Homo sapiens: one gene and its partners. The protein of the gene in region 3 interacts with the protein of the main gene of each other region in a pairwise test. Each region holds a gene or a part of one and is shown on either strand. Other genes may lie near its edges. The genes, in order: CELF4, PPP1R37, RBPMS2 and RBM41.

Region 1 (7,631 bases), on a different chromosome or scaffold from region 3:
GCTGCCAGCACAGTGCCAGGAACATCATAAGCATCTGGCAGAGTATGATGAAAAGAATGAATGAACAATCTTTAATGTTTGCAAGAGCCACCCCTTCAAGGGTGTTTATGTGACAGTAAAGGCCACACTGTGTGTATCCAGCAAGAACCCAAGAGGGGAGATCAGAAAAGCTACCTGGGGCAGGGAAACAGAAAAAAGCATTTATGAGACCCTTCTCTACTTCTCTGCCTAACGACCTCATTAGTAACTGCCAAAGAGTGAACATTTTGAAGGATCTCGCTCATTACAGCGGGTCCAAACTCCGCATTTAAAGATGGTAAATTAATTTTTTTAATGTACTACTTTTTTCCTTTCCTTCCCTCCATCCCTCCCTCCCTCTTGCTCTGGCAAGGAATTGTTTATGAGATGTGGCAGATTGTTACAAATAGGGGAAGAAACATTTCCAAATTCCATGAGGGAAATAGCTCACAGATGCCAGAGGGGGTTGGGAAGGAGCAGGTTTATCAGGATCCAGAGATCCAGATGGGCTTGTGGGCAGGAAGGGGTGGGAAATGAAGCCACCCAGATGTGCTGGGGATGCCATCTCCCAGCCCATGAGCCTTAGACTGGTGGGATCTCTTCCACCCCCAGCTTGCACAGCCCCACCCTGCCACCCTACCAGCTTGGGGTCATCATCCTTAAACAACACTCCAGATCATTAGAGCCTCATCACTTCACTCTCTAGACTCCTCTGGCCTCTTCTTGGTGGATTGAGGGATATATTATGGGGCAAGCTCTGGAATGGGGAATGGGATTAAGGAAAACTCCAAGTTCAAAGTCAGGAAATTCTCCTCTATTTCCCTCTAGTACAGTGACCTTGCACTCTGCTGCTAGTGGGACTTTTATATACTACAAATGCCTGGTCTGCACTCTAGACAGGGAAATGAGAATGTCTGGGCTTATGTGGTTGTATAAAGCCCCACAGTGGATTCTGATGGGCACCCAGAGTGGGGAACAGGACCCAGCCCCTGCTGCCAATTCACCTTGGGCTGGCCTGCCTGCCGTGTGTGCCAATCTCCTTACCACCTCCACTCTTGCCAGGCAGGTCCCTCCAAAGGAGGGTGTTCCCTGTTCATCTTCACCTCTCCAATTCCTGCCCATCTGTTAATGCTCGATGGTAGTTTCCTCCTTGGGAAGGCTTTTTGGGGCTTCTTTAGCCTACAGAACTGTCCATTCATTGGGATCTTTAGCATTTCAAGTCTGAGAACACTCACTCATGATCAAACTTAATTCTGCCATATTGTCTCATCATTCTGCAGACTTAGATTGTGTTCCCAATGGACTCTGACCTCCCAGGCGATAGGTCCATGTCCTGCTCTACTTCTTGGGCCCCCCTTTCACAGCACAAACTGAGTACTTACTGATACTTACGGGGACTCTAACCTCATCCTCTGCCTCCAGGAAGCGGGGCGGCACTCCACATCGGGAGCACATTTCCCTTGTAGTTTACTAGAGGGCTTTGGGCCCAGCTTCCCTGCCCTGATAGCAGCCCATTCTCCAGACCAGGGAGAAGAGCTGCTTCAGGCCAACTGGACACTCTCACCCTGTGAGGACGGCTAAGTTTGAGGAAAAAAGGTAATCAGGAGCAGGCCTCTTGGATCTTTCCGTGTGCCAGACTATTTGAAAAAATAGTCTAGGAGCTGTCCAAGGTGCTGGGCTGTCTGTGGTGCTGACCTGTCCATGGTGCTGATCACGCTTTGCGTGCACCATGATCGCGCTTTTGTGTGCACCAAGGGATGGACTGGTCTGTACTAGACAGACTGCCAATCGTTATACCTCCCTCCACTCCTTCCCAAAGAGTCTTTTCCTACTTAACACTAACCCTGATTGTTCTTCTAGTTTCTATCCCCTTACTTCTTGTAGGTTAAATTCACACTCAATTATTTTGCACTTACTGGCCTCTCTACATGGTTGTACAACTGCACCCAGTCTCCTTTCTTCCCTAAGGGAGCACCTGGAATGGGGATCTGTCTCCCAGATCAGAATGACATATCCCCAAGGGCAGGATTTTGGTCTCATTTTTTCCATCACGGGCTCCCTGAAGGAAGATGGGAGGCTGGCCCTCTCTGATCACACTTGGGGTTTCATCAAGGAATGGACAGAGGGCAGGAGCCACATCTTGTTATAACAGCAAGGGCAGGGACAGCATGGATAAAGAATGTGCTGCATACGGAAATAAGTGCTGACAGATGTGCTTACCTGGGTAGGGGTGGATGCCATTGGCGAACACAGCTTCCGCAGCAGGTTGCCCATTGGCCTGTGGGGGGAGGCCGGTGAAGCCATTCACCCCAATGGGGGATGGGATGCTAGGCACGGCTGGTGCAGTGATGCCCGGAGGGGTGCTGCCACCTGGTTCCAGGCATACAGAAGGGTGGAGGAGGAGGGGAGGCAAGCAGAACAAAGGTGAGGAAGGCCCACCCATAAAGCTTCACTCAACTGTTTCCAAGGACCTGCGGATAGACTTGGACCTCACATACCAGTTCAATCTTATCTATGACCCATGCCTTGGCTTATCTCCCTATATGAAGTGACTTCACCTATCCCAATTGTATCTATCCTTCAAGGCAGACTCCAAATTCCACCTGCCCAAATAAGATTTCTCTGACCCTGATGGCTTGTCCTTAGACAGCACATAGACTACTCTCAGTGCCCTTGACTGTAACCACACTTGGTCTTCCTTCAGTCCTTTTTTTTTTTTTTTTTTTTTTTGTCTTGCTCTGTTGCCCAGGTTGCTGGAGTACAGTGGTGCAATCTCAGCTCACTGCAACCTCCACCTCCTGGGTTCAAACAATTCTCCTTCCTCAGCCTCCCAAGTAGCTGGGACTACCAGCATGCACCACCAGGCCCAGCTAATTTTTGTATTTTTTAGTAGGGTTGGGGTTTCGCCATGTTGGCCAAGCTGGTCTTGAACTCCTGACCTCAAGTGATCCACCCGCCTCGGCCTCCCAAAATGCTGGGATTACAGGCATGAGCCACCGTACCTGGCCTTCCTTAAGTCTTTTTCAGTGCTCTTACTCTCTTCAGCTAAGGCTGGATGAGCTGGTCTTTACTTGGTCATTGGGGGGCTGATATGCCTCTCCAGGAGGAAGTTTTTCTGCTCAGATGGAGTAGGTCTTAATTCTGGCCTTCTCTCGTACTGAGGCAGAGAGGTTATTACAGAGCCCAGACTCAGCTTTAGCTCATACACAAAGTAGACACCTTGGCCTCCTCCACTTGAAGCAATAGTAGTGGTCATGATGGTGAGAATAAAGTTGGGGTCAAATGACAATACCCTGTGTCCTCCCTATGCCAAGTGGGTGGAACCTGAGATGTGGATATTATGGTGATTGTACTGAAAGCCCAGAGGCTGGAAAGGGCCTTCCTCTCATGTAGGAAGCAGGGTCCCTCTGAGAATGTGGACCTGAGGTTGGCCACTGCCTGGGCTCATGTGTATCCCTTGAAGTTGGGGATCAGAGGTGAAGAGTAGTGTTCAAGTTGAGCCCAGAGATGGCACAGTCTTTTTGGCTTTCACCTGGGAAAGGAACAGCTCTTGGATGTTAGGAAAGTTGCTGCTGTGGCCTGGGCACAGAGAGCCAAGGAAGCTCAGTGAATAAGAGCCTGGGGTGCAGGACCAGCCCTTAGGACTAGACTAGCGTTTCTCAACTTTGACACTATTACCATCTGGGGCCAGATAGTTCCTTGTGGTGGCTGTCCTGTGCACTGTAGGATCATACAGCAATATCCCTGGCCTCTACCCACTAGATTTCAGTAGCAATCCCCACTCCCAGTTGTGACAATCAAAAATGTCTCCAGACATTGCCAGATGTCCTGGGGATTCGGGGGCATAACTGCAACAGCTGAGACTCACTGGACTGGACAATAGCCAAGATTCAATCAAAAACATGATTTGTGAGCTGGGTTCTTTCCAAACTCCTGTCCCTTGATAACTCTTGTGGTTCTCTCTAGCTTGTTGCATAGTTGTCTTAGAAAAAGCCAGTGAGTCTAGATTGGGTTAAAGGGAAATGAAAAAAAAAAAAAAAAAAAAAAGACGACACCCAAATGGGTTCCTTCTGTGCTTGGGCCAGGGGCTGAACAAGGCCACAGAATGGCCAAGGCTCTTCTCATCATAGACACCACAGGGAGATGTCTTCATGTCAATTTCTTTCCAGGTCTCTTGTTGGTAAACATCAAGATACATTGTTTCCTGATAAGGTTAAACAGCTTGAGAGAAATCCACCCCACCCTGAAATCACACGGTAGACTGCATGGGTCCCATATCTCATCTTCCCTTGGATCCCCATGGATTAGAACATTTTTGAGACAAACTGCCAGAAGGCAAGTCCTCTCGGGCCCAGACACTATGTGCTTTTGCCACAGAATGGTCCGCTGGTAGCTGAAATTAGGTCCCAGCCTGGGGCCAGCTGTTCTCCCACCGGGCCAGACCGCGTGTTGGCACCTGCCAGCTCACCTGAGGTTGGGGTCATAGGTGCGGCCGCCAGGCCATTCATGTTGAGGGCCGCCATCTGCTGCATCTGGGCGGCAGCGAAGGCAGCCATGGGGTTCAGGTAGCCGCCCTGCGCGACTGATGCCATCAGGGCCGCTTGCTGCTGCATCAGCTGGGGCAGAGGGAGTGGAAAAAATATCACGTGCTTCCAGGGGGCATCCCTCCCCGACAGGGGCCTCAGCTCCTGGAGACCAATCTCCCAGGCTCTGAGCCCCAGAAGCTCCCAACTACCACTCCAGAAAGCCCTGATGCCTCTCCCATTCTTGCCCTGTACCTCAACAGCTATTAGAGTCCACCACCCTGAGAGATGACTGTATTTAAAAGTAATGCTAGGGTCTTTGGAACTCCAAAGTTGTTGCTAGGGGCAGAGGAGGAGACTGGCTCTGTGGGTGCTAGTCAGCCCTGTGTACAGCCTGTCATTCGTGGGGAAGTGACATCCAAAGCACTAGAGACATGCTGGATGAGCCTCTGCAGAACTCACTTAGCACAGGTTTCTGTCCAGAATGGTTTTAATTTGGAGTCTGTTGGTAGAAGTGACAGGAGAATTATGAATAGAACCCCAGGCACCCCTAGTGTTGTCACAAAGGTGAGTGCGGACAGGGGAGGCTGCGGAATGTGGCCAAGGCGGACAGTACTGCAGAAGTGAGGTAAGCTTGCATTTTCAGACCCAGAACCGTGGCCTGCCTCAGTGCCACCCACATGGGAGCTGTGGTTACCAGTCTGCAGGCAGCTCCGGGAGAGGCTGACAGAGTGGGCCCCCATGTGGAAGAAAGAAGTAGGTGGGCCAGAGGCCTGAGGGGATATCAGAAGTGTGGGTGTGTAGGGCTTTAGGGCACCTCACAGGAGCCCTGCCAGGAGAGACCAGAAGGCCTGAAGTCACCGTTCCATGGAGTAGGGGTGGTTTGCAACCAATGACCTGAACCTCACCCTCTCATCTGTGCTTCCTGGGGTTCAACGTTGATCTGGCTGAGAGGAAAAGGCTCAGGGTAACCCACTTTTCTGTGGGGCCTCTCTCAGCTCTGCCCCTTAGAACTAAGACAGCAGCCCACCTCCTCCTGGCAGCCACCCCAACTGGGCCAGCCTTCTTTCAAACCCTTCTGAAGTTAAACCCCCCAGGTTCATGGGTTCATTCCCGGCCCCTCCTCACTCTGGAGGGAGAGGGCAAGGGATAGAGTAGTATTTTCGGTTTCATGTCCCGCTCTCTGAGGCTCCCAGGGGAGTGAGCTTGAGAACCGCTGCCCGTGCGCGCTGCCACTTACTGCCTGAGCGTAGGCGCCGTAGGCCCCGAAAGGGATGGCCATGGGGTTGAACATGCCCATCTGGCCAGCCATCTGCTGCATTCGCCGCATCGTGCGCTCCTTGTCGGTGTCGGCGAACTTGACCACCAGACTGGACGAGGCTCCCTGCGGCCGGGGCGGCGCGTGAGACCCACCTGCTCCAGAGCCTCCGCCCGCAGCTGTCGGTGCCTCTGGCCTGCGCCCACCCCGCCCGCTCCTCGGGGCGCTTTGGAGGAGGCGGCATCGGCGCTCGCCCAGGGGAATGAGGTGTGAACCCCACCGCGGGCATTTTCCACCTGGGTAACCTCAGGCCAGTTCCTTAACATCCCTGGGCTTCCGCGTCCTTGTCTGAGGCCCGGAATAAGGGTCATGCTTTCCTGTCTCTTGGGGAGACTGGACAGCCGGCGGGGCGTGGCGGGTGCTGGGGTCTCGGCCCGCCGCTGCCCTCGCCCCCGCCCCAAGGGGCCAGCACTCACCGGCATGGTCTGGCTGCCGTGTAGCGCGTTGATGGCGGCCTGCGCCTCGGCGTGGGAGGAGTACTTCACAAAGGCGCACCCTGCGAGGACGCGAGAGGCCGAGCTGGGACCCAGAAGCAGGGCCAGGGAGGGGCCGGGAGGAGAGGGCGCATCCCAGGTGAACGCAGACGGGTGAGGCAGAGATTGAGAAAGAGACACCAAGAAGCCCAGAGACAGACGGCGATGGCCCCGGAGACTCAGAGGAGCCCTCTGGTCTCCCTCCGCCTCGCCCCTCCCTCCGGGGCATCCCTCCCGGCCCCGCCCCGCGCACCCTTGCTGTTGCCGTCGGGCCCGCGCAGGATGGTGCACTCCTCGATGTTCCCAAAGGCCTCGAAAAGGCGGCGCACGTCGTCCTCGGACTGTTGCTTGTTGAGCATGCCCACGAAGAGTTTTCTATCTTCTAGAACAAAATTAGGAGATGCTTACCCGGGCCAGGGACCGGGCTGCGCGGGAGCAGGGCAAGGCCGGAGGGGGAGAGCGGCAGGGAAAGGGAGGAGCCGGGGAGGCGGGGCGGGGGCTCGGAGCCGGCGGGGGAGAGGTGCGGGGGAGGGGGACGGGGGCGGGGCTTAGTCGGAGCGGGAGGGGCGAGGGAGAGAAGTAGGTGGGGTAGGAGCGCACAGTCGCGGGACAGGTGCGGAGAGAGCTGTGGCAGGCAGGAGCTGGATCGCAGCGACTCGGCCTCCTCCCGCCTGCAGGGCAGGCTGCACCCTGAGGAGCAGAGACCCTGGGCTGACCCCTCACTAGAGCACACGGGCAGCCTGCGTTCCCCTCCTCCTTCGTCTCACATGCTATCCTCTACAGGCTCCAAAATGAATCACAACTGGCGGGTCTGACTTCGGGCCTTTGCAGATGCTGTTCCCCTGCCTGGAGCGCACTTATCACAAGGTCCAGTCCTCTTCTTCTAGGTCTCAGTTTGAGTATTGCCTCCTCACCCATGCCCCTTCTTATCCCTCCCTTACTCTGTCTCAGGCCCCCATCCCTGTGGCCGGAATGTCAAAGGACAATGACTACTTTGTGGGTTTCCGTATAGCTCTCCTTTCCCACCCATTCCCTGGGATGCTCACTGGGGAAAGAGACCAGGCCTCTCTGCTGAAGCAGCAGTGCCTGGAGCACAGGAGGCCCTCCATTTAGTGATGAGGTGAATAAAGAATGAATGACTGCCTGTCCTGTGCCATCCCAGGGCACACCTCCTTGGTATGTCACATATTTTTTCTTCCATCTGGATGCGCCCTCCTCGGTCTGGCTCTTCCTATTTCTTCACGCTGCAAAATTCGACCCTGGACACTTTGGGGGCGTCTGTTCCTGAAGATGCCTCAG
Region 2 (7,622 bases), on a different chromosome or scaffold from region 3:
GAGAGTGTTACCCACTCTACCCCTTACCCAGGACAGACCAACCGGCACCCCTCCTCTAAACTCCTCCCAGCCAGGCTCCAACTGCCCCTCTTTTCTTGACAGATAGCCTTCTGCCTCTCCAGTTCTTTCACTGCCTCTTCAAGACTGCACGTGAAAACAAACAAACAAACAAAAAACAAATCTGCCTGGATGACAGCTGCTATTTATGTGGCAGAAATTTATGAGGACTATCTTACTTCATCTTCACAACTACCCCATGGTAAAAATTAGCACCTCCATTTGCAGAGAAAGAAACAGAGGCTTGGAGAGGAAAAGTGGCTTACTGAATGAAAGCCAAACCTGTTCTGGGAATCTGCAGACCAGAAACTTTACCCCCCAAAGCCCAATCTGTGCCAGACTCTCTTGCTGCCCTCACCCCTGACCCTTCAGCCCACAAACTGACCATCTTCCCCCTCGCACCTCACTCCAGGCCCACGCATTGACTGCCATCTCTCCCCTCTCCTGGAAGCCTCTGAAGCAGCCACATCCAGGCCCCACCCCATGCATGAACTCCTCCACACCAGCCCAAGATGACCAACACTGTCTTAATAACAATGACTGCCATCGAGAACACTCACCCTGGCCAATTCCTTTCCATATGTGACTTCATCCAGTCCTCTCCTAAATTCCGTGGCAAGAGTATTGCCACCTACTTCACAGATGGGAAGACTGAGGCTCAGGAGTTAGGTAACCAGCCCGAGGTCTCAAAGGATCTGACCTGGAGCCTCTGCTCTTGAAACACCCTGCTCTGCCTCTCCAGGTCTTTCCCCTTCCTGCTCTGGACTGGATATCACGCAATAGCCAGGGGGCATTCTGACTGTGCCCGGGTCCCAAACTAACCACCTATCCCTGGGGCCTAGAGCCCAAGGACTTGGCTGGCTCCTAGTGCCAAAACTCTTTTTTTTTTTTTTTTTTTTAAGACCGGGTCTCTGTCACCCAAGCTGGAGTTCAGTGGCGCAATCACAGTTCACTGCACTATCGACCTCCTGGGCTCAAATGATCCTCCCACTTCAGCCTCCTGAGTTGCTGGGACTACAGGCGTGCACCACCACACCTGGCTAATTTTCGTATATTTTGCAGAGACGCGGTTTCACCTTGTTGCCCAAGCTGGTCTTGAACTCCTGGGCTCAGGTGATCTGCCCACCTTGGCCTGACAAAGTGCTGGGGTTGCAGGCATGAACCATGGCGTCCGGCCCAAAAGTCTTAATTTAACCACTGCCTCTTTAAGAATAACTAGCCAGCCGGGCACGGTGGCTCATGCCGGTAATCCCAGCACTTTGGAAGGCTTAAGTGGGCAGATCACCTGAGGTCGGGAGTTCGAGACCAGCCTGGCCAACATGGTGAAACCCCCAACTCTACTAAAAATACAAACATTTTTAGCCAGGTGTGATGACAGGTGCCTGTAATCCCAGATACTGAGGAGGCTGAGGCAGGAGAATTGGCCTGGGCGACAGAGGGAGACTCCGTCTAAAAAATTATAATAAGTAGCCAAACTGTCATTCATGATGGACTCCCTGTGTGTTCAGTTTCCAGTTACCATGTTTCCCACCCTCACATCAAAGCCACCAATTCCTCCATTGTCCACAGACTGGCAATAGTTTCTCCCCTTGCCCAGGGCCGGCAGATCAGCTTCTACAGAACCACGGCCACCACAGCCAGTCTGATCCCTCACTTCATGGGCTCCACCCCAGGAGAACTGACAGACTTCTCCAGCACAAAATGGACTCAACACTGCCCTGCATGTCCCAAGCGACTTTCCACTTTCCCAGCCCTATGGCTCCAACACACTCCTTTCAGCTCCAACACTGACCTGACCCTCTCCAGTGCGCTGGCCCTCTCTCCCAACACTTCAAGTAGCCAACTTTTTCATCTCTCTCACCTGCTACTGGCCAGCAACTCCAATTTCTGACTTGATAACATCCCCCAATTCTTTTTTTTTTTTTCTTTGAGCCGGAGTTTTGCTCTTGTCACCCAGGCTGGAGTACAATGTCGTGATCTTAGCTCACTGCAACCTCCACCTCCCGGGTTCAAACGATTCTCCCTGCCTCAGCCTCTTGAGTAGATGGGATTACAGGTGTGCACCACTATGCCCGGCCAATTTCTGTATTTTTAGTAGAGACGGGGTTTCCCCATGTTGGCCAGGCTGGTTTTAAACTCCTGACCTCAGGTGATCCACCCACCTTGGCCTCCCAAAGTGCTGGGATTACACGCCTGAGCCAATGCACCCGGCCATCCCCCAATTCTTTCTCAGGAAGGAACAAGAGGACCCTTCCGTAGCCATGTCCCAAACATCCTCTGCTCCTGAATGACTGACAGCCTTCCTTCTGCTTCTCTTTTTTTTGGAGGAGGAGGCGGCGGTAGGCGTTGGCTTTTCTTCTTAATACCACATTGCAGCAGGCGGCGGTGGCTCACACCTGTAATCCCAACACTCTGGGAGGCCAAGGAGGGAGGACAGCTTGAACCCAGAAGTCCGAGACCAGCCTGGGCAATGTAGTGAGACCTTGTCTCAATAAAAAAGAAAACATAAAAACCACACTGCCTCTTTCTCCCTCACCCAACCACAAATTGACCACCACCTCTGCTCCTCTTCTGGGACCTTATCTTGACTCCTTTTTACCAAGTCCTCTATAGCCACAGTCCAAGTTTATAGTCTCCCTCTTTCCAGCCAAGAAAGTGGCCAACACGACCACTCCTTGCCCCAAGGCTTGCAGACCAGCAACTTAACCTCTTTTTACCCCCATAGACCCATCAAACTCTTTCAACTGCCCTTTCAGGCCCAGTGTTGACCCGCTCCTCCTCTCAACTGCTCCTTCTCTCCTTCTCTGGTGGAACTACGAACGCAAAGGCTGCCACACTCTACATCTGACAAAACACCAAACTTTCTTTAATTGCTCATCGTTTTAAACCCTAAAACGATCACCATCTTTGTCTCGGGTGGGTGGGGTGCGGCAGAAACCAGATACTTTTCACCTTCCCAACTCCATAGCCACCCCCTTTCTAACAGACTACGGTTCTAAACTGACGACTGTCCCCTTATTCACCATTAGGTGCAATCTATTGAACGCCACCTCGAGCCGGGCCCTGCACCGATCCCTCCCGACTCCCGGGTCCCTCTCGAGCCCGCCCCCGCTTCACCCGCGGTAGCTACCATGTCTCCAGGGGTCTTTGGGCTCCACTGCTCCAGACACGATATCCTCGTCGGACGGGAATGTGACGCGCTTGGCTGCAGCCTTGAGGCGCCCATCGGCGGGGGGCGACGCGGGGCTGGGAGACCCGGCCTCAGCTGGGGCCTCTTCAATGTCGCCGTCCGCGCCCGGCACGGGCGGCGCCTCCTGCGGCGCGATCTCCATAGCCGCCGCCGCCTCCTCACGGGGGCCCCGGGGACATGCCCCGGGCCCCGGATTTGTCTCTCCGGGTCCGCCCGCCGTCCCGGGGCATGGGCTCCGCCGCCGCTTCAGGCGCCGCCTCCGTCCGCTCTCCTAGTGGTCGTAGTCGTCGCCGCCGGGAGCCCAAGCGCGCCTCCGCCGAGCCCCGCGCGCGCCTGCCCGTTCGCAGTCACACTTTCGCTCGAGGCTGGCGAGCCCGCCGCTTACTATAAGAAGCAGAAAATCGATTTCAGCGACTTGCACGTAGAGTTGTCCCGCGGGTGACATGAAGAGAGAAACAAAGGGCAGGAAGGGCCACGGAAAAAAGAAACGTGAGCAGCGAATCTGCAGAGCCGGAACTGCAGACTATGAGGGGCGGGGCGAAGTAGACGCCGTCTCCAAGAGCAGCGCGCAAGCGCGAAGCTGAGCCCACGCCTTCCTGCCGGAGTCCAAATAACGAATATTCAGCTCCCGCACATTCGTCAAGAGCCCAGGGAATGGAGTGCATAGAACTGAAAACACCTGGCGGGGCGCGGCGGCACACGCCTATAATCCCAGCACTTTGGAAGGCTGAGGCGGGAAGATCGCTTGAGTCCAGGAGTTCGAGACCAGCCTGGGCAACATAGCAAGGCCCCGTCTTTACAAAAAATTTAAAAATTAGCAGGGTCTGGTTACAGGAGCCTGTAGTTCCAGCTACTTGGGAGGTGGGAAGATCGCTTGAGCCCGGTAGGTTGAGGCTGCACTGAGCTATGATCGCGCCCCTGCACTCCGACCTGGTAGACAGAGCCAGACCCTGTCTCAACGAAAGGAAAGAAATGGGCCGGGCGCGGTGGCTCACGCCTGTAATCCCAGCACTTTGGAAGGCCGACACGGGCGGATCACGAGGTTAGGAGATCGAGACCATCCTGGCTAACACGGTGAAACCCCGTCTCTACTAAAAATACAAAAAATTAGCCGGGCGTGGTGGCGGGCGCCTGTAGTCCCAGCTACTCGGGAGCCTGAGGCACGAGAATGGTGTGAACCCGGGAGGCGGAGCTTTTAGTGAGCCGAGATCGTGCCACTGCACTCCAGCCTGGGCGACAGAGCAAGACTCCGTTCCCCCCCCCCCAAAAAAAACAAAGGAAATAAATGAAAACATTGAGGCTAGACTAACTGATGAAGAGTGGTAACGGCATGAAGAAGTCGAAAAGAAAGGCGGATAGGAGCTGCATTCAATATATGAGTGCAGTTGATGGATGCTGACAGGGATACTCTGGAGACGAAGTCTCGGCCCCTTCGCTAGTCTCTAGTCCTCCATTTGCTCGCTGCAGTTACATCAACAGCTCTCTGTATCGGGGTAGAGTTGCATAAAATACAACTTAAATTACAATGCTAAAATAAATATGAGCCCATGAGCGGTATCATAGGCCTGATTTTAAAAAACAAAACCTAGGAGAAGGTAGAAATTCCAAAGGCGAGAGACGAATCTGCCAACCTAAATCCTGGGTGACAAGGCTGGTGGATCACCGAGGCAAGAAAGAACCAGCGTGAGCTCAAGCCACACCCCTAGGCTCAGACCCAACGCTTGACATTCGCCGCCGCACTTTCGCCACGCTTGCCGAAGCGCACCCGGCTAACTAGAGGAGGCGGGGCTGAAACCATAAAAGGGAACTGGGGCGGAGCGAGCTGCGTCGTCGCCAAGGCAACTCGAGAGCTAAGTCCGGGCCTCGGCGGAGCCGGCGCTGCGAATGGACTGATGGCCGCTGAGGCTGCTCCTGGCGCGGTTCATCATCGGCCGCCGCACTTTCGCGACTGAGACGAAACGACACTCACCTTTACTTAATGGAAGGCTTCGCTTACATCCTGAACTTAAAGGAACTACAGAAAGGGACAGAAACTGCTTTCTTTTTAAACAATGCGCTGAAAGGTTACTAGTGATAGGAGGCTTAGTGAAGCGCGTGATGTGAACGGCCACGCTGCAAGGCTGGAGAGAAAAGAGGAGGGAGTGAAGTTGCACCCTGATCGCGAATCCTCGGCCTTTTATCAGGGGCGCCGCCACTCGGGGTCCGACCATTCGCCTCCAACGAGGGGACAGCGAATCTGCTGTCGTGTGCAGTCCACAGCAACCACAGGTGGGGCAACAGGAGGAGCGCTTGGGCACGACCACGTGACCCAGCACGAGCCACCGCCCGCCCCAAAATGAAATCAAATCCTAATCTCCCAATCCCGGCATGCCGGTCACTCCAGCCTTTCCAGGAGACTTGCGGCCGTGCAGCCCCTACACCTTTATCTGGACTCCTGTCGTACTTGGCCCAGCTCCACTGGATTCAGCCCTTGGATAACCACCCTACCAGCCCCTAAAGATGACTCCATCCCCGTCGGTATAGTTAATTAAAGAAAAACAGGAGTCGAATTTTCCTGGGGTAACTGGTTCTTTAGCAGGAGGGGAGCACTGGGGAGTATCTTCAGGGTGGCTGGACTTTGCAGCCTCTTTAATAACTTCCCCCTGTGCAGGTTGTATCCTTTATCACCCCACCCCGATGCCCCGGTCTTCAGGAAATGGCAGCAGGCCCATATTTCTGTAGGGTTCAGAGTTCTGTGAGGTAGAGCATTCCTTCCAATGGGATCTTAGAATTCCTAGAGTTGCAGAATTTTACTGACTAGACCCAGGAGGTCTCAGGAGTCCAGACTTGCTTAAAGCTTGGCTCAAAATTCCAAGGGAGCTCATAACTCCATGGGGCCCAGAGTTCCTGGCTCGGGAACATTGGGAGGCCTGGGATACAGTGCCTTAGCCTCAAGCAGAAAAGTGAACACAATATCTTTATGGCTTGAAGGTATATGAAATAATGTCACTACATCGGAGCAGCGCCTCTGCTTGCACACCTATGGGAGTCTGCAGCTGTGACACGTAGAAGTTGGCCACATCCAGGTCGGTGGCTCCAAAGTGGGCGGCCACACGCACACCCTCGTGCAACGTGAAGCTCACCTGATGACCCACCATGGCCAGCAGGCTGCGGAGGTAACGCTCCCGAAGGGCGGCTCGTGCCCGCTGCTCCTGGGATTCCAGGGATTCTTGAGCTATGGGACACTCCTGGATTTCAGGAACCTCTGGCCTCAAGGGGGCTCTGCGTCCATCAGGGGCAAAGCCACGGCTGAAGCCATCAGGGCCCCGGGGCAGCCGGAGCACAGGCACGGGAATGTTCACTGGAGTTTGCATTGTCTTGGCTGTTGAGTGAAGAAAAAGAGCAGGAAGTCATTACATGGTAAGCATGGGGCTAATGGAGGAGGGAGGAGTGGAAGCAGAGGCTGGTCTACCAGGCAGCTCCACTGCACCTGCCCCAGACTGATCCACCCTCCTAAAATCTGTGCCATCGTCCCCCAATGGCTTGGATCAGAAACAAAAGTGTCACATGCACAAAAACATGAGCCCCGTGAAGGCAAGGACCTTTGTCTGCTTTTATAATGTTTTTATCTCAACTTATAGGCAATAAATATTTGCCAAAAGATGAACCTGGCCAGGCATGGTGGCTCATGCCTGTAATCCCAGCCCTTTGGGAGGCCAAGGCAGGAGGATCACTTTGAAGCTGGGAGTTTGAGACCAGCCTGGGCAATATAGCGAGACCCCATTTCTAAAAATATATATATATATTTTACATTAGCTGGGCTACTCAGGAGGCTGAGGGAGAAGGATTAGTTGAGCCCAGGAGATGGAGGCTGCAGTGAGCTGTAATTGTGCAACTGCACTCCAGCTTGGGTGACAGAGTGAGACACTGTCTCTAAAAAAAAGAATAAACCCCAGCTTTCTCTCACACACAACCCACCCAATCCATCAGGAAATTCTATCTTCTAGATAGATTCCCACTCACACATGAGCTAGCTTGAAAGGGCTCCCAGTGGCCAAATCTGGAATTATTTGAACAATACAATAATGATAGTTACAGATTATAACCCACTGGATAAAACAGAAATCCAGAATCCATACCAATAATAAATAAATGAATAAATAAGGAAGAGAAGGAAAATATAATCCTTACTGTAGACTGGCAAGTAAATAAATATAAAAGGAATAGATGCAAAAATGTGTGGATAGGGCCGGGTGCGGTGGCTCACACCTGTAATCCCAACACTTTGGGAGGCCAAGGTGGGCGAATCACTTGAGGTCAGGAATTCGAGACCAGCCTGGTCAACATGGCGAAACCCCGCCTCTACCAAAAATACAAAAATTAGCCGGGTGTGGTG
Region 3 (7,631 bases):
ATCACTTGAACCTGGGAGGCGGAGGTTGAGGTGAGCTAAGATCACACCATTGCACTCCAGCCTGGGCAACAAGAGTGAAACTCTGTCTCAAAAAAAAAAAAAAAGAAAGAAAGAAAACAAAACAGAAGAGGTGCCCAGAAGTACACACAAGGATATCCATTGTTGTATAGCTATCAGTAAGCAAAACTGTATAAACAAACCAATTTACCATCTACAGGGAGCTGGACACATTCGTACAATGGTGTACTAGCCAGGTATCCAAAATGTAGAGCTACACTTACTATTATTTATTTTAAGTCCTAATATTTAAGTTTTTTTGGTTTGTTTTGTTTTTTTTTTTTTTTTTTTTTTTTTTTTTTTTTTGAGACAGAGTCTCGCTCTGTCACCCAGGCTAGAGTGCAGTGGCGCGATCTTGGCTCACTGCAACCTCTGCCTCCTGGGTTCAAGCGATTCTCCTGCCTCAGCCTCCTGAGTAGCTGGGGTTACAGGTGCCCGCCACCACGCCCAGCTAATTTTTGTATTTTTATAGAGACGGGGTTTCACCGTGTTAGCCAGGCTGGTCTTGACCACCTGACCTCAGGTAATCTGCCCACCTCGGCCTCCCAAAGTACTGGGATTACAGGCATGAGCCACTGCGCCTGGCCCTAATATTTAAGTTTTTAAAAGATTAAATATGTATTGCAGTTTTTCTAAGATTCATACCTATAGATTTACTTATACACCTGCTCCAAACTACCTATCGAACTGAAGAATTAAAAGTACAGGTTTTCTGGGGATTGGATGATAAGCCAAAGGGAAGAGAACAAAAACTGCCTGTTTTTTTCCATAAATGCAGATATGCTAATACAATAATAGCTCCTGCTCATGAAGCACCTCCCCTGTGCCCAATGCTGTTCTAGGTAGATTTCATATACTAAGTTCATTTAATCCTCACAAAAACCCTATGAAGTAGATGCTATTATCATCTCCATGATACAGATAAGAAAATAGAGGCACGGGAGTTTATGTAACCTTAAGGTCACTGGTAAATGGGTGAACCAGTTTAAGGGGGAGAAAAAAGCCATGGAAGACCCGCATATCCTCAGGTTGGAACGTAAAATGAAATCCAGTCTGGGAGGACCGTGGGATGCAATAGGACGCTGAGAACCCTTGCTTTTAGGCCACCATCTTTCTATGCTGAACCCCACTGGGCCTGCCATCCACAGTTGCTTTTGTGCCTCACCCTCTTTAAGGGGAAGATTCTATCAAGAGGGTTAGAAGGCCAGGCAAGGTAGCCTCATGCCAAGACAGAGCAGGACCAAACAACCTCCAGGACCCCTCCTGCAGGTCTGGTCTCTGCAGCCACGTAGCTGTGGAGGCCTGGGCTCAGGCTGGGCTACTGGCAAAGGGCATGCAGCTGGGGTAGAGAACAGAGGTACTTGTTCTCATCACCTTGTCCTTCAGCTGCTACCTTCTCCTGAAGTCACCTCCTTGCCCCCAGGCACAGAAAAACTCAGTCCTTCTATTGGTCTTTTGGGTTCAAAACAATTCACTTAAGATCAACAGTGTCCATACTTCATTTAGACACTTTTATACCCTATCTCTGGGGCAGCACTGTCAGGGGGCAAGCAGTGGGGCTGTTGGAAGGAAAAAAATAAAATGTTCTTAGTCGGGAAACAGTAAAACAACCTGTTTTACTATTGAGGAAAGGGCTGCCCAGAGAGTTTGAGTAGCAAGGACAGAACTAATGACTCCCTGGTCTAATCTCTTCCCATTAGCCTGCCTCCCCAAAAACGCCACTATCCTTTGGGGTGGGTGGCCTCTATCCCAGTCCCCGTCCAAGGAAGGCCAGAAGGCAGGAACTCAGGCACAAAGAGGCCTCCAGCCTCAGAGAGGACCCAAGGGAACCCAGACAATAATGATATTAAATAACATCACAACCATCTGCACTTTCACAGCACTCCCTCCATGCCATCACGCGACTCCATGCCATCATGCGAACAACACACCTATCAAGTAGGCATTATCATCACCATTTTACAGAAACACAGAGATGGTGGGTAACGTGCCCAATGTCCCACAGCTGTTGAGAACCAGGATTTGGGCCAGAGTTGGACAGCTGCAGAGTGTGGATGGGGTGGGAGAAAACTGGGAAGGAAGCCAACAGGAGGAAGGAAGCCCTGTGGCGTGGAGCTCAGGGCCAGAGAGCAGTGCCACCCCCACCTGGCTGGGCAGAGGTGCCCTCTCTGATTCATTTGACAAACTCATTGTCCCTGGCTCCCAACCTCTGTCACAGCCTAGCAATTCAGAGGATAGGGCAGAACCTCTCCACCTTATCTGGTCTATCCCTCTCATTTTACAGATGGGGACACAGAGGTGAGGATCATGTAGCCAATTGGTGCCAAAGCTGGGATCAGAGGTGAGAAGCCCAGTGAGGTGGGAGCCTGTGATTCCTTCCAGTGCCTCCCAGGGCCTTGCAGTTAAACATCCGCTTGACCTGAAGCATCAAGTCACTGCCCAGGTCAGGGTAGACAGGATGAGCTTCCCTGCTCCCCGCTCTATTCCAGCCACAGAACCCAGTTTGCAGTAAATACCCAACAATTCCCTCCAGGGGAAGGTCTTTACCACCTTCCTTATCCTCTGATCAATTTTCAAGCTATTTGTGGTGCTCAGCTGGGGAAGAGCGCCAGGGTTAACCACAATTCTGCCCTCAGTACAACTGAACGTTGCGGAGCCAGGGAGCATTCCCCTGCTGGGGAAAACAGTTTGCTAGGGTAGCAGCCCCTGAATCTGAACTTTCCGCTTTGGAACTGGACAAACCCAGGTGTCACTGAGTCCCTGGAAGAACCTGAAAATGGACGTACACACAGCTCTCGGGCAGAGCACCCGACTCCTCCCGCCTCAGCTCTGGCTCCTGTGAACCCTCCTTTCTGGCTTCTCCTGCTTTCCTTCCTCATCCCCTCCTGCTCCCCAGCCAGGTCCCAGCAACCTCAATTCTCTCCTTCGCAGCAGCACAGCACACCCTGGCCGGGCAGCTCTTCCTGGGGATTAGTGCTCATCACCTGGCTGGTCAAAGGTTGAGGTGGGCTCAAAAGTGCCCCCCAGCCCCTTCCTGTGGCTGCCTGGCTGCAACTTGTCACTGCCACTGTGAGGCACCCCACTGCTCCCCGACACACGCACAGTGGGATGAGACCTCCCCTGCAGAGTGCTCCAGTGACCTGCACTTGTGGCCAAGTCAGACCAGAGGAAGCGCCTGCATGGCCAGGGGAAAGCCTGACTCCCTGCCTGCCCATTGGGCACCCAGCCCAGCACCCCACACAGAGCCTTCCTGGCCCTGCTCTAACAGCCCCGACTCTCCCCAGAAGCATTCACTCCCTGTTTCCTGCCCGGCACAGGTTCACAGTGGACAGCGTCCAGCCTTCATGGAAGCGAGAGCCAACACTCAGGGCGCTCTAGGTTACATCCTAGCACTCAGTAGTCACTTCGTCTTGACATCTAACTTTCACAACAACCCTAAGGCAGATTATCTGATCATTCCCATTTTTCAGATGACTAAAAAAAAAAAATCGAGGCACAGCAATCTGTAAGAGCTTGATGAAAGGGACAGGAAGGGGCAGAGGCAGATGGTCTGACTCCAGAGACCATACCCAGGTTAGGACTGGAATCATAGTCCCATCACCATGGGAGAACATAGTCGGTGCCTGGGCAGGGGTGCTTGGGGCTGGGGAACCACAGCTGGGCTGCCTGGCATCCTCCATGGGAACTCGTGGGTTATCTTCTCCCTCCCTGTCAAATCCTAAACCCAAGGGGAGGACAAATAGGTCCCTGGGGTCTGGGCTTTCAAACCATCAAGGAAGACAAGAGTTCTGCTGCAGCTCTGGGACAGCAGCGGCCAAGTGGCCAGGCACATGCAAAGTCTGGCCAGCTAAGAGCCCTTGTTCTTCGCCCTCCCCAACCTTAAAGGGCTTACCTGAGCGTGGAGGGCGGCGGCAGCGGCAGTGGCAGTTGGGTAGGTGAACGCAGCATGGGAGATGGCTGGGGTCAGCTCTGTGGTGTACAAAGGGTAGGGGGCCCAGGCCTCTGGGGATGCAGGGATCAGAGCAGCCCCCATCAGGTCATCTACAACAGGAGACAATGGCCTCCATCATCAGAACACTCGCCTCCCCTTCCAAACGGAGAAGGGGACCCAGCACTATGGTTGAGCCATATGCCCCACACTGAGGCCAGACCACCCCCAACCACAGAGGACCCCGAGACCAGGCAAGGAAGCCACGTTAAATCGGCCTGTCATGGTGTGCATCCTGCCTGCTTTAAGACAGGCCTCAGCTCGTCTCAAATGAGAAATTAAAGAAGGTTGCAGGGAAGCTGGAAGCCCTGGCAGCTCAGAAATTCTAGGCAGGCTGCAGGGGAGGGAGGAAAACCAGGTGTTTCAAAAATGGGTGGCCGTGGACACAAAAAGCCTCCTGGAAAAGGGGCTTCCCTCTGCAAGAGCCTGCAAGTCTGCCCTGAATGCAACTCCATGAGGGCCTGCCAGCTCAGAGTGCCACTCACAGGGGTCCCGTGCGATGAAGTGTGCTCCTAGGGCGGGGTGCACGTTGCTGGGATTTGGAGTTGCCATTAGCTTGCTCTTGGCCATCTTGGTGTTGGCTTTGGCAAACTCTAGCCTCAGAGTCTGTGGATTTTCGGGATCAAAGCGAATACCCTACATGGGTAGAGAAAAGAAGAGAAAGGCTTACTCCGGGGGACCCAGAGTGTTAATGGCAGAGAGTAGAGAAGGGCGCCATAAACAAGCTCGCCTCGAAGACCTGCCCACACGGTGGCTGAGGCAGAGGAAAGGCAGCTCAGGCCTTGAGTAATGGCCTTTGGCACAGACAGTGTCGCCAAGGACTCTGCCCAGGGATGGCCGGGAAATAAGATACATCTGCACACCCACTGCCTAAGAGGGCTGTGAGTCAGAGAAGACCTGTTCTCCACCTACTCACGTTCAGCGCATTCTTGGCCGCTTCTGCTCCTGCACGGCTGTCAAAGATCACAAAACCAACAGGCTAGTAGGAAAAAGAGAGAACACCCTTATATCTCTCCTAGCATTCCACCTCTCCCTCCAAAATAACAACAAAAAAAGAGTATCATCTATGTGGAAACAGTATTTGCCCTGCTGATGAGAATACAAAAGGAAAAAAAGCCCCCCAAAACTCCAGCCCACATCCTCCCTGTTCACTGGAACAGCAGTTTAACATGCACCAAAAGTCAAGTCTCCCTCCCCAGGAATATCCTGTGGGAAATGATGCCAACAGAGCTTAATTCCACTGAATTAAACGTCGCCCTTTTAGTAAAAGTATTGTTTTTAATGCATGCAGATAACTAAAAGTAAGTCCCAGTGTTTTCCCCAGCAAGAAAGGGGACACCAATGTATCAAGGGCATGGGAAGACTCCGGTTCTATCAAGGAGCAATAGGTTGAAAACTGCTCCAACTTCATTTTCCCAAGGATCAGTCTAGACCCCAAATAGCCCCCAAAGGCTAGCGGGCCCTGGCCTCCTTGTATTAAAAGCTAGAGCTCAATCGTGCCATTGCACTCCAGCCTGGGCAACAAGAGCAAAACTCCATCTCAAAAAAAAAAAAAGCTAGAGCTCAGCTAACTGCTTTACTGTCCTCAGCCAGCGGGGCTCCCAGATTCCTAAGAAACAGACAGGGAGGACCAGGAGCTGGCTGGGCTCAGATGGCCAGTGAAGAGACAGTGGGACCTACAGAGGCTGCTCTGTCAGAAACAGGACAACAGGGAGCGCAAGTCTGTACCGCCAGATGCCTCTAGATTAGGGAAGGGTTAACGGGCCCTTGTTTGAAGCTCAGCAGCCGGTCTGGGCTGGGAGGAAGAAAACCCTAGGAGAGAAATTACCTGTCTTGCAGTGAGCTTGATCAGGGACCCTTCATACCCCTGCGGAGAGAGGTGGCTGTTACCGTGGAAGGTCAGAAGCGTATGTTGTGCTAGCCCAGCGCTGCCACCTCATCAGCCCCCGCGTTCCCCTGAGTCATTCTCACACCCTTCTCCCTGTCAACATCAACCCACCCTGACCTCCGCCACTGCCAAACGTCCACCGCCCTGCGTTCTGAATCACGCGGTCTAGCACATAGGGTGGGCATCACGCGGCAGCACTCATCACTTCAGGCAGAAATTCCCATTTGCTCCACTAACTAGTAACCCGAGAGCACAGACCTTACCTTTTAAGTTTTCTCATCTGCAAACTGAAAAGGCTACACTGAATCTCAAAGATTCTTTATATAACCACATATATTTAAAGATTCTTACTGTTAGCTGGGCATCATGGCTCACGTCTGTAATCCCAGCACTTTGGGAGGCCGAGGCGGGCAGATCACAAGGTCAAGAGATCCAGACCATCATGGCCAATATGGTGAAACCCCATCTCTACTAAAAATACAAAAACTAGCCAGGCATGGTGGAGGGTGCCTGTAGTCCCAGCTACTCGGGAGGCAGAGGCAGGAGAATCGCCTGAACCCAGGAGGCGGAGGTTGCAGTGAGCCGCACGCCACTGCACTCCAGCCTGGGCAACTGAGTGAGACTCTGTCTCAAAACAAAACAAACAAAAAGGACAAGCGCCGTGGCTCACACCTGTAATCCCAGCACTTTGGGAGGCCGGGGCGGGCGGATCACGAGGTCAGGAGTTCAAGACCAGCCTGACCAACATGGTGAAACCCCATCTCTACTGAAAACACAAATATTAGCCGGGCATAATGGCGCATGCCTGTAATCCTAGCTACTTGGGAGGCTGAGGCAGGAGAATTGCTTGAACCCAGGAGGCAGCGGTTGCAGTGAGCCGAGATCAAGCCACTGCACTCTAGCCTGGGCGGCAGAGCAAGACTCGTCTCGAGGAAAAAAAAAAAAAGATTCTTACTGTCTCCATTTAACTGGCGAGGAAACAGAGGCTCAGAAGGCAGCATGTGAATTCGCAGAACCAGGACACGGGCTGGACCTGCCCCCACAGCTTCTGCCACGCCTTCCCGCATCATCCTGCTGCCCTGCCCGACCCGAGATTCACTCCCGCTGCTTCTCCAGGGTCCCAGGCTCTACCCAGGGGGCGGCTGGGTCCTGACTCACCTTGAACGGCCGGAAGAGCAAGTAGAGTTCTCTGGGTTTAATGTCCACAGGGAGGCCGCTGACAAACAGTGTCCGGACCTGGAGACAGAGACCAGTGATCAGGGCCAGGCTGCCCAAGACGGACAGGGATGACAACAGCGCTTCCTTCAGGCAGGCAACTGGAATCCTTCTAGAGCTTAGAGGAATTCAGCCTTTCCTGGGCCTCCTTGGATACCCAAGGCAAATTAACATTGTTTCACAGCACTCAATTTCTCAAAGCCCTTTCCTTTCTCTGGGTACATCCCAGAGGCATCGTGCTGCGTCTGCCGGATGCCTCTGCACACAGACTGAGTCTGCTGGTGAACAGAGGCAAAAAGAAAGCCCTGTTTGATAAGGGTACAAACCCAGCCCAGCATGCCTTTTTTTTTTTCTTTTTTTTTTTTGAGACAGAGTCTTACTCTGTTGCCCAGGCTAAACTGCAGTGGCGTGATCTCAGCTCACTGCAACCTCCACCTCCTGGGTTCAAGAGATTCTCCTGCCTCAGCCTCCTGAGTAGCTGGG
Region 4 (7,955 bases), on a different chromosome or scaffold from region 3:
TTCTTCAATATCTTGAAGACGGTTCTGTATTGCTTCAGGAGTTGCCCTCAGTTTTGTCTTCTGAAACCAGAGGAATGAGATGGCATGTATCATAGAGGGCACAACCTGAACATGATGATCTGGTATCTCAAGTAAAAAGATGACCTAGGCCCAGAAATGAATGTTTACAGAAAGTGTTAGCTAAGAAGTTAAAGAACAGCTTCTCTTTTACCAATGTCTGCATTCTAAAAATCAAAGAAGATTCAGACACCAAGCTCAGTTTTGTGAGAACTAGAAATGAAAAGGCTCTCAGTGCTAAAATGAAGATATTTTGCTCTGTTTCTTTGAGGAGAAAAACCAACAAAAAAAAACATTACCCCACTCACCTTTTCACCAGAAACATGGCTCTTCCAGATCAAGATTTCTGTTTCATTAAGCCCTAATTCCCTGAGAGAAGCAGTTTCCTGGTCCTTCTCATGCAGTGTCTGGAATTGGGACAAAGTCATAGTCCCAGCTGCTTCCTTCCCAAAGGGCTTGTACATAGTACCAGGAGCAAAGCTCTCTTTCTTAGACATACATCTGCAAAACATGCAGGAGGAGAGTAAGAACATCTTGAGGTTACTATCATTCACAAAAATGGAGGTTCAGCACTGTAAGAGGTACAATGAAACTCACCAGCAAATTTTCTCTTACATCTTATTTCTAAGCTGAAGCACCACTGCAACAAAATGGAACTCCATCGAGAGTGCCGTCATCCAGGAATAATAAACTAAATCAACAAATATTTATTGAGTACTTACTATGCATCAGATACTCTGCTAGGTACTAAGGATTTAATAGCTTTATAAAAAAGATAAAAATGGCTCCTGCTTTTGTGGAAAAACAGTGGAACAGAGGCAAGTAAACAGGCAATGATAATATTGGGTTACAAGTGCTATGTTAAGGGAAATATGGGATGCTGTAGGAGGACATAAAATAGGTACTTGGCTCAGACTTAGTGAGATATGGGAGGCTTCCCAGAGGAAGAGACACAGAATTAAAACCCTACCTAATACATTGAAGTCTAACAAAGAAAGGGAGGTGGGAGAGGAACATTCCATCTAGGCTTTAAGAGAGATCTGTCACCTGGAGGTAAGAGTCTATGATACTCTCCGTTTGCAAAATCAATACCTACTCCTCAATGGAGACAGAAGTATCAAGTTGATGCTGAAGGAGGCTTTTCAGCTGCCTCTCCCCTTCTGTTTCCAGCTCCTCCAGGACATGCTCATCACTCTTCACACAGCTGTTTACCCTGGAGTAGACATAAGAATATATACAGAAAACGGAAGAGACTGTGAGTCTCAAAATATATTCCTTATCTATATTATCTACCATTACTGACCCCATTTATTCAAAGACACTTCTCCAACAATTCATTGCCCTTTACCATTTAGTCCATGAACACTTACTAAATACCTGTTTACACAGAAGGCACTATGCTAGGTACTGAGGGAAGTCAAAGGTGTTTAAGACATAGTCCCTATCCTCAAGAAGCCCACAATCTATTTAGGGAGAAGAAGTGTGTGTTTATGTGTTGTGTGCATGTGCCTTGGCAGCGGGGGGAGGAGAGAATAATAACACATAGAAGCATATGCCAAATTAGTAGAAATTCACAGAAGAGAAAATTGGGAGATAAAGGTGGTAAAGGAAGACTTCAGAAAGGTACTTTTAAGCTGACATTCAAAGGTGTGTGATGCAGAAAAGGAGAACAGGGAAAGAGAGTACAAAGGGATAGTAATATATACTGAAGGATAATAAGAAGTAGTAATTTATCAAACAGTTAAGTGACACAGTGCAAGTGATGGTTTAGACAGATGAATGTGGTTATAATATGCCATAGAGATTCAAAGGGAAGAAACAAGAAGAACTAGTTATGAAACTACTGAAGTAAAAGGTGATGAAGGTCTAGACTGAAATGGTAATAGTGAAAATGGAAAGAAAGGGTTAGATGAGAGAGGCCTTTTGGAGGCAGAGGCAAGGAAGTCAAAGATAATCCCAAAATTTCAGTCTGTGTAACTGAGAGAACAATGGTACCAATGAAGGAAAGACAAAGCTCCAGATGGAATAAATGATTTGGGAAAGGGAAAGTCAGTATTGTTTTAGCCACATTGAGTCTAGTAGCTTTTACAATAGAAACGCCAGCATGAAGTATCAGGAATACTTCAAATACATGACTAGGAACATTTTGTTTAGGGATAAATTCATATGTACTAGAAACTATTTGCTTTTTTAAAAGCAAGGGAATTAATAACACAAAATTCCGGATAGTGGTCACCTCAGGGGGGAACGAAGGGAGGGAAGAGACACAGTAGACTTCTAAGGGACTGGCAATGTCCTATTTCTTAAGCTTGTAGTGGATGCGAACCTTTATTATTCTTTAAGCTGTATATATACATTATACATTATTTCGCATGGAGGAGATATCATAAAAAAATATTAAAGGTTAGTTTCAGGCAGGCAAAGTCATAAACGGTTTTTTAAAAGATGCAAGGAACTGACAGTGCAGGAAAGCATATCAGTAAGAATTTTAAATGCACTGCACTATTCCAGAGTGATGATTCTACTTGCAGAGTGAATCTAAAATTAATTTAAGCCCGTCAATAGTTAGGAGGCTCAGGCCATTTAGGCTCAAGCGGCCATTTACCTCAGGACAAGTAAGGGGAACTGAGCCCAGCAATGCCTTCCACCTCCCCTCCCCCCACCCCATAAATCGAACCGCTTTGGTGCTGTCCTTCCACATTTAGAAACAAAGTACCGCTCCCTTACTTTAAGATTCGAAAGCGCTACATGGTTTCGGGGCCCAAGCAAGTAGTCTTTAACACACAGACGTTGCAAATAAATGCGCCCGCCCCGAGCCTTTCTCAGGTGGAGGTGGAGGTAGGGGAGAACGGCGAGGGGCTGGCCCGAGGTACCTACATCTCCGGCGCCGGGAATTTGTCAGCCTCAAACCCTTTTGCCCAGCTGGGTCCGGGTGAAACGACGAAGCCGCAGCACCCGGCCAGCTCCCGGGGCCCGTGCCGGGAGGGCATTCCCACAGCAGCCGGCCCCGGTGGCAGCCCTTCCTGAACTTCGCTCTGCAGGCCTGTTCAGCCCGTCTCCCCTCCTCCCGTCTCCTTTGTCGTGTTCCCGCTCCCACGAAACCGCATCCTGAGAACGTGCAATACCCAAACCAGAAAGCAATGGAAGCCATTTTCAAAAGAAAAGGTAGAACAAAGCTCCCCTTGCCGCCTGCTCTTCAGACAAGTCCTTACCTCTTCATGTTTCCACAGGCCCCTACCTCCAACTTGGGTAAATAGGCCGCGGACCTCAAGTCCCAGAACTCCGCGCGGCGGACTTCTAAGGGTATTGTGATGGAGCATGGGGCTCTGGGAATTGTAGTAGCACAGAGCTATGGCAACAGAAAGAGAAAGTAGATCTCAAGTGACAGGTATGCTGAACATTGTCCAAATATTTATTTTGAATTTCTCATTTAGGTTCAAAAGAAGACCCAAAATATCCAGCTCATAAAACGAGTCACCTTTGACTTCTTGATTCTCTCATCCATTACCACTAATTCCTGGCTCTTCTGTAATTTCCTTTGAACTTATCAACACTGCTTTTCTTTCAAGGATTTATCCAGCCTACCTACCGTTTCCAGTCGAGCCTCTGCTTCATCCTTCACGATGTAGCCAGAGTCATCAGACACGAGTCTGACTATATCACCTGTACTAATGGTTCTCCTCTATCTGTAACAGAGACTTGAGAGTTTTCTCCACTCAGAATCAGAAGTCTGTGTATGTTCAGGCCCACATATGTTTTATTGATAATTATGGTGAATCAAGAAAGAGGTATAGTATAGTGGTTAAAAGCATAGGCTCTTAGTTTCCAGAAATGGAAATGCAAATGTCTTTAAGTGTATGAAAAGATGTCCAATCTCACAAATTTTAAAGTACACTGACTACCAGTACTCCTTAAAACTAGCAAGGTCATCAAAAACACAAGAATCTGTCACAGCCAAAAGGAACCAAAGGAGTCATGATGACTAAAGTAATGCAGTATCTTGGATGGGATCCTGGAAAAGAAAAAAAGACATGAGGTAAAAACTAAGGAAATGTGAACAAACTATGCTCTTTAGCTAATAACAAGGTTCGTTAGCTGTGACAAATGTATCAGAGTTATGCAAGGGAAACTGAGTTGTACGTATGTGGAACTTTGTACTATGCAACCTTTCTGTATCTAAAACTGTTCTAGAACTTAAAGTTTATTTTTAAAAGTACATTAAACTACCATTTTTCACCTAACAGATTGGGAAAGATCCAAAAGTTTGATAACACACTTGTTTTATTGAGATTGTGGGGAAACGGGCGCTCTCAATACACTAGTGGTAGGAATATAAATTGGTACAACATCTATTGGGGGCAAATGAGGATACTACTAAAATCATAAATGTACATTCCCTTTAAAGCAGCAATTCAGTTATGAATAGAATCCTCAATACTATATATCCTCTAACCTACTATCATTCCTTGCAACATTGTTTATGAAAACAGAAATGAAAATATCCAAGAACATACTATGAAAATGTATCATTCAATGAAAAACTATGCAGCAGTTACCAAGATGACAAAGTTCTCTATGAACTGCTACTAAACAATCTCCAAAATATAGTTAGTGCAATAGCAAGGTGCAGAACGATATGTATACTATGCTTCTATTTGCATAAAAAGGGGAGCTCTAGTCACTTAAAAACATATATATGTGTGTTTGCTTGTATATGCACAAAATATGTTTGGGAGAACTTACAGACAAATGATGAGTGAATGCCTCCAGGTAGGGGAACTGGATGGCTGAGGGACAAGGGCAGAAAAAATTCTTCACGTATCTTTTTGTGCCCTTTGAATTTTGAACCCATGACTACATTACCTAGTCAATACTTTTTTAATTAAAGAGAAACCCTCTTACATCTCAAGAAGCCAAAGAAGAAAAGATTGTAGGTAATGGTGGGGGGCGGGGCACACTACTTGGATTTGAATCTCACTTCTCAGTTGACAGTATAGCACGACAGGGTTTTAGAGGCAATCTGGACTTGAATTTTTGCTCTGGTAAGTTACTAGACCATGTGGGTTTCAGTAAGTTTCTTAACTGGTCTAGGCCAGTTTTCTCATCTGTAAAATGAGGATACCTCCTAAGTATAGGGTGACTGTCAAGCACATACAAAGGTATGGTTTTAAAGTTATTCCATGATTGAGTGGTAATCTATGAGTAAATAGTCAAATGTTAATCAGTAGATTTAGACTTATCCAAACTGCTTTGTATTTCCATGCTCAAGTTAGAGCAAAGGACCAAAAAGCAGCTACTGAAAAACATTGTAGAATTTCCTGTCCTGAGAACTTCTATCAGATTGAAAATGTCATGGTGAGCTACCTAAGACCTGTCACATGCAAATAACTGTGCTCTTGAATCATAAAGGTGAATGACTGCAGGCATAGCATGTACCACTTTGTAGCTTTGGCACAGAACGTGAACTGAATATAAGTATAAACAAAACGGGGGGTCACATCATTGCCTGCACCAGGTAAATCCTATATGGTGGTAGAGCTGAATTTTGTGGCTCAACCAATCTGTCCCAATTGACATATTGACAAGGAAATGGAAAAATACACCAAGGTTGCTAGTGTGCTTATCCCCTGGGACGGTGGCAAAGGATGGAACAAATATTACACCAACCATCACACCAAACTTGTGTACAACTTCTAATAAAACATATAGCCTATTGATACTGAAATGATACACACTACATTGCAAATCCACTAGGTGGGATGAGTGGAGAACGAATAGCTAAGATACATATTCACATAGCTGTGGAATTGCAACTGGAAAGCAAGGTCATAAGAAGTACTCTACATACCTGTGTATAACTGTAACCAGCGCAAGTGATAGGTACAAACAGACAAACATTCAGAAAATTACACTAAAAAGAAAACCAGGCCATTTCTAATTCTGCCAAACTTGTTAACTGTGTAATAATAGTTATTCTGTTTCCCACAACATTCTTCTCCCCAGCTTAAAAGGACATCAGACAGTGTATACAAAGCCTTGGAGATCTCTAGATGTTATACATGGGCACAGAGATCTTACCTAATTTCACAATTTTACCCCTAGAAGAATTTATGACAAACCGAAAAATATGCCTCATTTGTCTTTCTGTCAATTTAACAAGGTTAGTTTAATTAATCCAGAAGCTCCTTCTTAACAGAGACACATTTTCTGAGTTTGTCCTTTTTAGGTGCTTTGTTTGTGGCACGCTTCTGAAGACTACATTATGAAGCAGTTATGATTCCAAGATATGGAAGAAGATGTTAAAACCAAAAATCTTCTCTTGAATCTACTCACCATCTTATATTAAGAGTAAACAACTGTGCAAGTCTTTCAAATTTCCCAAATGAAATAGCATAAATGCTGTTATAGAGAACAAATATAGCATCTTTTCAAAGGATTAAAAAATGGGTATGTACTGGGATAGTGTCAACACTTTAAATTTAAGAATTCTTCAGCTAATATGTCAGCTGGTTAACAATGGTTACGAGGGGCTGAAGACTCCAGTGCCTAACATAAATGATGCTTTAACATTACTGGTAAAAATAGCTTATTTCTGTATTTCTGACCTTTTAATTAAGATTTGTCAACGTGACTGGGCACGGTGGATCACGCCTGTGATCCTGGCACTTTGGGAGGCCAAGGCGGGTGGGTCCTTTGAGCCCAGGAGTTCAAGACCAGCCTGGGTAACATGGCAAAACCCCATCTCTACAAAAAACTCAAAAATTAGCTAGGTGTGGTGGTGTGCACCTGTAGTCCCAACTACTTGGGAGGCTGAGGTAGGAGAATCACTTCAGCCCAGCAGGCAGGGGTTGCAGTGAGCCAAGATCACGGCACTGCACTCTAGCTTAGGTGACAGAGCAAGACCCTGTCTCAAAAAACAAACAAAAAAAAATTGTTCAACAATGTCATTTCTTTACATGTTAGAAATGGTCAGGAAGAATCTTAGAGATGATTTATGATTTAGTCCAATGTACAATTCCAGACAGTATACTGAGATCACCCTGTAAGTCTTAATAACATTACTAGATCAATCTAGAAGCCAGTTGCTATCCTCTGGCATCTTCTATGTACTAGGAAAAACACTAGAACTCCCACTGAAGATAATGTAACAGTAAGATAGTATAAGCAGTATTGTAGTCTCCTTTTTCTTTATTTTACTTAGGAAATATAGAGTAAGCACTCTACTCACAGTGAAAAGACATAAAGGAATCTCAAAACTTCAGAGAAATGAAAACCAGTTCCTTCTCACAAAACAGTTTGGGAAACCCTAATATGATCCAACTCTTTCATTTATGGACAAAGATAATGCCCAAGATGAAATTATTTGTCCAGTTAATTAGGCAGGAACAAGACTAGAGTCAGTGTTTCTTCTGATAAACTATATTTTCATTACTGAATGTAGAACTTGTACACAGGCTACTTTACAAGAGTTGAATCTCCAAAAGCAATGGGAAAAAATGTCTTTAGTATTACTCTTATCTACAGTATAAGAGTAATAATACTGAACTGAAAAATTAGAGATTACTAAAGATTATACTTAAAAGTTGTGTATCTACAGAAATAATTCACAAGATTATATGAGTTCTGGATTATTTTCACATTCTATAATTCTGCGTGGTTACAAAAACTTACTGGATAAGAAGCTGCTGCTTGGAAAAGTTTGAGTAGAAAAAAAAGAGTCCATGTCAATTTTGGCATTTAGTCTGCTCATAAGACTAATCGTTGCTAATATTCATTTCAAAAATATTTCTTCGTGTAATGTGTACCCGCCACGATGGTCGTGTGCAATCAGTACAACAGAAAATTTAGCTCAATAAATTATAGGTTACTGAGCTCTAGTCACTTAAAAACTTTTAATA

What was found.
Region 1: the proteins of RBPMS2 (region 3) and CELF4 interact in binary tests that used the Homo sapiens proteins (3 or more experiments, as listed by UniProt).
Region 2: the proteins of RBPMS2 (region 3) and PPP1R37 interact in binary tests that used the Homo sapiens proteins (3 or more experiments, as listed by UniProt).
Region 4: the proteins of RBPMS2 (region 3) and RBM41 interact in binary tests that used the Homo sapiens proteins (3 or more experiments, as listed by UniProt).

What each region holds. Positions count from the first base shown.
Region 1 is NC_000018.10:37,268,530-37,276,160, forward strand, and holds part of CELF4 (CUGBP Elav-like family member 4), read right to left. Parts: exon of another isoform or gene 7,623-7,631; intron 7,200-7,622; exon of another isoform or gene 7,116-7,199; intron 6,715-7,115; coding exon 6,586-6,714; intron 6,356-6,585; coding exon 6,276-6,355; intron 6,067-6,275; exon of another isoform or gene 5,931-6,066; intron 5,926-5,930; coding exon 5,782-5,925; intron 4,635-5,781; coding exon 4,487-4,634; intron 2,389-4,486; coding exon 2,239-2,388; intron 1-2,238. UniProt on the Homo sapiens protein: RNA-binding protein implicated in the regulation of pre-mRNA alternative splicing. Mediates exon inclusion and/or exclusion in pre-mRNA that are subject to tissue-specific and developmentally regulated alternative splicing.
Region 2 is NC_000019.10:45,089,093-45,096,714, reverse strand, and holds the start of PPP1R37 (protein phosphatase 1 regulatory subunit 37), read right to left. Parts: upstream 3,537-7,622; 5' UTR 3,390-3,536; coding exon 3,188-3,389; intron 1-3,187. Other genes in the region: GEMIN7 (gem-associated protein 7), read right to left, coding at 6,205-6,600. UniProt on the Homo sapiens protein: Inhibits phosphatase activity of protein phosphatase 1 (PP1) complexes.
Region 3 is NC_000015.10:64,744,470-64,752,100, forward strand, and holds part of RBPMS2 (RNA-binding protein with multiple splicing 2), read right to left. Parts: intron 7,170-7,631; coding exon 7,092-7,169; intron 5,913-7,091; coding exon 5,874-5,912; intron 5,025-5,873; coding exon 4,962-5,024; intron 4,682-4,961; coding exon 4,531-4,681; intron 4,099-4,530; coding exon 3,950-4,098; intron 1-3,949.
Region 4 is NC_000023.11:107,115,497-107,123,451, forward strand, and holds the start of RBM41 (RNA-binding protein 41), read right to left. Parts: upstream 3,327-7,955; 5' UTR 3,278-3,326; coding exon 3,270-3,277; intron 3,090-3,269; exon of another isoform or gene 3,048-3,089; coding exon of another isoform or gene 2,935-3,047; intron 1,271-2,934; coding exon 1,154-1,270; intron 749-1,153; exon of another isoform or gene 655-748; intron 559-654; coding exon 366-558; intron 61-365; coding exon 1-60. UniProt on the Homo sapiens protein: May bind RNA.